Linked DNA regions of Homo sapiens: region 2 is linked to region 1. The links come from fine-mapping of genetic effects on gene expression. Tissue or cell type: cerebellum. Region 1 holds a variant in brackets; the other region holds the start of a gene. All regions are shown on one strand. Distances are from middle to middle.

Region 1 (2,673 bases):
CTGCTTCCCTCCTGCTGTCCACGTCTCCAGCAGAACCCTCTTGTGGGCAGCCCTGGGAGCAGAGTTCTCTTCCCACCGAACCGGGACACCGCAGCTCTGTCGCCATCCTCTCCCAGGAGGTGAGGGCAGAGCCCGTGTCTCATGCCTGGTTGGTGGCAGTGGGGCACGGCCTGGCTGGCCTGATGCTGGGGAGGGGAGGCTCTGGTGTGGTCACAATAGGGGGCTCATGCGCTTGGACACCGTTTCTGTCTGGCTGAGCCCACTGTGGGTTTCTCCCTTTGGTCCTCATGGTGACATTCTAGCCCTGGGGCTGGGCAGAGGCCACGCAGGGTTCAGGGACTACAGCAGCCTTTCCTTGGCCCCAGCGGCCCCGCATCCTGCTGGCACCTCGTCCTTGCGCTCCCCCTCGGCGGCTCCCTGCCCACCCGTCGGTCCTTCAGACCCGCCTGCCTCTGCCCAGTGGCGCTCGCCCGCCCACTCTCTCAGCTTTTACTTCACCCTCACGCAACTCTCGTGCTCCATCGGGCCCGACCCCTCCTCAGTCAGGCCACGCACACTGCGGGTGGTGCTGGAGACCCTGGAGAATCCGGGCTGACTCCAGGCATGGGCGTGGCGGGAGGGGGTCCTGTCCCCAGGAGTCCGGAGCGTGGCGTGGGCTCATGTTCCGTTGTCTGTGTCGTTAGGGTTTTGGTGGCCTTTTCCTCTAATTTTTAAGTTAAAAAAAATACGTTCAATGCCCCACAGCATCTGCCTCCAAAATCTGAAGGGGCCTTCTAGGTCAGGCAGTTCCCAGCAGTGGCCGCCCCTGCCCGCACCGCCCCTGCCCGCACCGCCCCTGCCCTTCGGGCGCTGGGCCTGGCTGAGCGCCGTCGCCCCCTGGTGGACTCTGTGCCCCACAGCTGTCCCACGGGGATGCTGCGCCCCTGGGAACCCAGCACCTTCGAAGGCCACCTCTGCCCCCTGCCCAGAGCCTGCCTGTGCCGTGGCCTGTCCACATCCAGCACAGGGGCCACGGGGCACAGAGCGCTGGGTGACAAGTCTTTTGTCACCTGCCAGGACCCTGGGACTGCGGCCCATGAGCAGCGAGGCTGGGACTCCAGCGTGCGGTGCTTCAGCCCCGGCCACTGTGAGGGGTCGGGAGCCCAGCCCGGTACCCGTCCGCAGAGGCCAGGCGGGGGCAGCCGACCGCAGCCGGGTGTGGAACTGCCCTTGTGCGCGTCTGGGGCTTGGGGCCGGGGTCACGGATCTGCTGCGGCTGTGGGGGCTCATGTGCTCCAGGCAGGGGCAAGAGCTCCGTGTCACTGAGCGCCCCAGGCCACTGTCAGCAGCAGGGGGAGACGTGGAAACTGAATCCTTCCTTGTTCCTGGCCTGGGAAAAAACTTAGTCTCCCATCTCTCTTTATATTGAAGGAAAAAACAGGCAGGGGAGGAGCCCGGGCC[G/T]GAGAGAAGAGGGGCTCGGGGTGGGGGCGGGGGCGTGCCCGCCTTCGCTCTGGGGTTCCTGCGCCCGAGCACTTTACTGCCCCCACGGGTGAGAGGTGGGCCTGTTTTCCCCATCAGCCTTGGTTCCGCCAGTAAACCCGATCCGGTTGGAGCCATCCTCACCTCCGCAGTCGAGGGCAGAATCTGTTTTCCAGGTTGGGATGTGAATTCTCAGTGGCGCCCACTCTGTGACCCGGCGGGATGGGGTCAGCCTGGGCTGTGGACGTGGTGGGTGGGAGAACGCTGGGCAGGCCTTCTGAGTGTTCGGGGCCCTCTCTGGGCCCTCTGCTGGCTGGACTGGGCGGGACGTGGCCCCCGGGATGGGTGGACAATGTGTGTCCCCCGCCCCTTCAAGAGCATTGGCCCCAGTGACCCTGCTGCGACGGCTGCGTCTCCTTCTTCCCCCCGACCATGCTGCCCCCGTCCCAGGCGGGGCTCGGCAGGAGCGCCATGTGGGGCCCCTGGGAGGAGTCCTGTGGCTTTGACATGAATGGGGGTACGGGTGGTTGGCGGTGGGTCTTGGTCCTCAGCTGGCGGCTTTGCTCCTGACTGCCCCAGTGGCTTCCGTGTCTAGCCTGACACCCGTGTCAGCCCAGGGACAGAGGCCCCGGGAGGCTGCAGTCCAGCCCTCACAGAGGACAGGGCCGTGGGCAGGACCTGCGGCGCCGGGTGCCAGCCACAGCCCCCAGAGGCCCCCTTAGAGCTGGGTGTTCTCGGCCTTGTGCTGAGGCCTGTGCCAGGCTGGAGCTGCTCAGAGATTTCGGGGTGGTGGGCTTCCTGGGATCCCCCCAAGGTCAAAGGGTACCCTGTATCCCCTGAAGTGACCATTTTCTCTCTCTCTCTGCAGGCCAGCACTCCTTGCCCGAGGACAGAGATGGCGAGCGCCCGGATTGGGGATGAGTATGCGGAGGACAGCTCTGATGAGGAGGTAGGACTGGGGCTGCTTCCCACTGGGCAGGGTGGGGCGGCTTCCATCACAGCCTAGCAGGTGCTGGGGGTTGGGGCTGGGGTTGCCCTGGGGGTGCTGGGACCTGCCGCAGGTGGGCCGCACTGTTGGAGCCGAGGCCCACGTGGGCGTCCTGCTTCCCCATCTGCAAGAGCAATTTCGGGGTCTGGGACACAAGACTGCAATGTATGTGTGTCATCATGGCTTGTGAAGGGGAAGGACCTGGGTGTGGCTCCATGCCCCTGTGT
Region 2 (2,673 bases), 130 kb after region 1:
AGTCAGCAATCAACCCCAGCCAGTGGGAAATGACGAGGTGCAGGTCTCCACAAGCCACAGCGGCCTGCACGTCAGTTTCAAGTTAACAAAAACACCTTAGCCTCAGGTCATTCCACTCTGACATCAAAGAGAGACCAGAGACACCTGTTCACGGGGACCCTGAGAGCCTGAGACTGAGCACTGAAGATCCTGCTGACGGCAGCACCCTAGGGTGCCCAGACTGTCCATGCAGCCACGTCACAAACACGTACCACCTATGAAACATGCCGCAAACAACGATTCCCACACGCATCTCCAGCCCTCGCCTCGCCGGGACCCGAGGTCTTCGGGACATCTCCATCCATGGTCATCGCACTGAGACCCAACAGCTCTAAACTCAACTCACCACCCTCACCTGACTTATCACCGGCCCTACCCTGCCTGCCTCTTACCGCATCGTGTGCGTTCACCACCATCCCCTTCCAAAGTGGTCCCTGCCTACAGGGCTGTCCCCGACCCAACTCTGCTCACATCCCTAAGTTCGGCCACACCCCCGTACCCCTTTTCTGCTTACCTCACTGCACTTGAGTTTATGAGTCTGTCCCTTCCCCAACTGAGCAGGCAAAGGAGCCCCTCCCCAGAGTGTGTAGGACCGAGCCACCAGCGCCCGCAGAGTGGTTTCCTCTGACCCTCACACTGCAGCTGCACTGACGCTGCCCGAAAATCCGACCCCCTAAGTCTCACCTTGGCTGAGTGAGGGCTGGCTCCCGGCGGCCCTGCCAGCGCTATGCCCGGCACGCTATGACCAGTCATCCTCGTGACTAGGGACAAATCACCTTCCTGCTCGCGATCGTCAGAGAATACGGAAGGCATACGGAGGCCCGGGGCACGCCGGCTTTGCAGGCTCCGGGCGTATGCTTGGCTTCCCGGAGAGAGGACCCCCGGTGGCCCCGCCTGGGGGGAGAAGGGCCGGGGACCACCGCGCTCCCGGGGAGGGCCGGGCACTGGGGACCACCGGGCTCACAGGAGGGGCGGGCACCGGGGACCACCGGGCTCCCGCGGAGGGGCGGGCACCGGGGACCACCAAGCTCCCCGAAGAGGGGTGGTCGCGCGGCCGAGACGACTTAGCGGCGCAGAGGAGGAGCACAGCCGCACAGCTCCGGCCTCTCTTCCGGGCTGTGGCGCGGCGCACACCTGAGCCGAGGTCCCCGCGACACCCAGGACCCTCCCAGCGTTCGCCCTGTGACCTTGGGGAGGCGCCTCCTGACTCGGCTTCCTCCGCGGCCCCGCCAAGGGAGCCGCCCCAGGCTCTTCAGCCCAGACTTCCCCGAGGGGCTCTTCCCCAGCGCCGCCGAAGGCTCATCCCCACCCGCCGTTTACCTGAGGAGCCGCCGCCACCTCGGCCGGGGCGCCGCCTTCCCGCCCAGCAGGGGCCCGGAGTGGGCGGAGCCGCGCGCGCCGAGCCCGCCCCCGCTGCCTTCTGGCCACCCGCAGCCTGGAGCGCGGCAGCAGGTCCCCGCCCCCGAGCGATCTCTGCACTTATTGGTCGGGGGCACGTCTCTCACGCTCGCTCCACCCCGCCCACCTTCATTTGCAAAGCAGCAGTGCGCAGACTCCGCCTCACGCTCGGCCCCGCCCGTCTGTTGAGCGACAGTTCGGCCGCCACGGCGCAGGCGCGGCCTTCAGGCTCGCGACAGCTACGCCAGCCCCGGGGTGCTGCAGTCCCCGTGTCCCCGTCGGACGCATACAGCCCTGACGACCTCCGCTCCCAGACGCCGGGGACGCGGGCTCGGCGCGGCGTTGCGGCCGCTCGCAAGCACACGCCCGCCCTGGACTCGCGCGGCCCGCCCGCCCTCTGTCTGCCCCGGAAGCGCCAGCTGGAGGCCGCGGCACCCGGAGGGGGGCAGGACTCGCAGGGCCCTGCGCTCGTTGGGAAAGAGGCGACCAGCGGGGTCCCGGGAACTCGGGACGCGATAAGAGCGATGTGAGGAAGGAAAGCGCCCGCCGCGCGTCCAGGCTGGGCGTCGGCAGAGGCGGAGGCGGCGGGAGCAGCGCGGGCAGGATGTCCACTCCTGGCCGGAGGGACTGGGCTCCCGCTGTGGGGACGGCGCCCGGGAGAGCGCAGTACCCTTTGCGGATGCGGGCGCGGCCCCTGCGGCGGCTTCCCACGCGCCTGTGGCCTTGTCCCCTCCCGGTCTCGGTGCCGCCCCCGCCTCACGCACACCAGCTGCCGCGCGCAGCACAGCCCCACTTTCACTCCGATCACAAACGAACGCCAGCCCCTCCGCCAGGGGCAGGCCTGAGTCTGTATTTTGCTCCCGAGGGCTGCTTACAAAGCCCCGCACGGGACGGCTGCCCAATGAAGCCCCGGGAATGGACTCAGGTGCAGGCAACGACGCGGATAATCGAGACTGCAAAGGGAGGGTGGACAGAGCCAATGGCCGTTCTGATCCTGCAGTCATCACTTGGCTTGACACTCGCGGGCTTCCAGCTGTGTCCTGCCACTGGTGGGAGCGGAGGTGTGCCGCAGGGGCCGCAGGCTCCCAGGCTCCGCAGCAGAGCCCAGAGGCTCAGCCACCCTGGGTCGGGACCACCTGGCTCCGGTTCTAGAGTGGCCGCTTCTTGCAGCCCCCACCTTCGACGAACTCCACCCTGCCCCCGTGCCTCTCAAGCCCTTCTGACACTTAAGCAACC

Alleles and levels. Alleles are on the strand shown, and positions count from the first base shown. SD is a standard deviation of normalised expression in the study named.
In carriers of allele G in region 1, the expression in cerebellum of the gene that starts at base 1,420 in region 2 tends to be higher than with T alone (small effect, 0.28 SD a copy in GTEx).

What was found. PIP is the estimated chance that this variant, and not a neighbour inherited with it, causes the effect.
Region 2: it holds the start of MROH1, and the variant in region 1 is fine-mapped to the expression of MROH1 in cerebellum (GTEx, PIP 0.92).

Annotation. Positions count from the first base shown.
Region 1 is chr8:144,275,958-144,278,630 of GRCh38, reverse strand. BOP1 (BOP1 ribosomal biogenesis factor) reads left to right here. Exons shown (of 16, transcript NM_015201.5): 3 at 2,327-2,407. Among named protein-coding and RNA genes, the nearest start is that of SCX, 11 kb to the right of the region's middle. RefSeq lists a silencer at 774-823. The variant G/T (reference allele first, on the strand shown) is at 1,441.
Region 2 is chr8:144,146,763-144,149,435 of GRCh38, reverse strand. MROH1 (maestro heat like repeat family member 1) reads right to left here and starts at 1,420. Exons shown (of 44, transcript NM_032450.3): 1 at 1,360-1,420. RefSeq lists silencers at 1,189-1,568, 1,739-1,938, 2,059-2,148.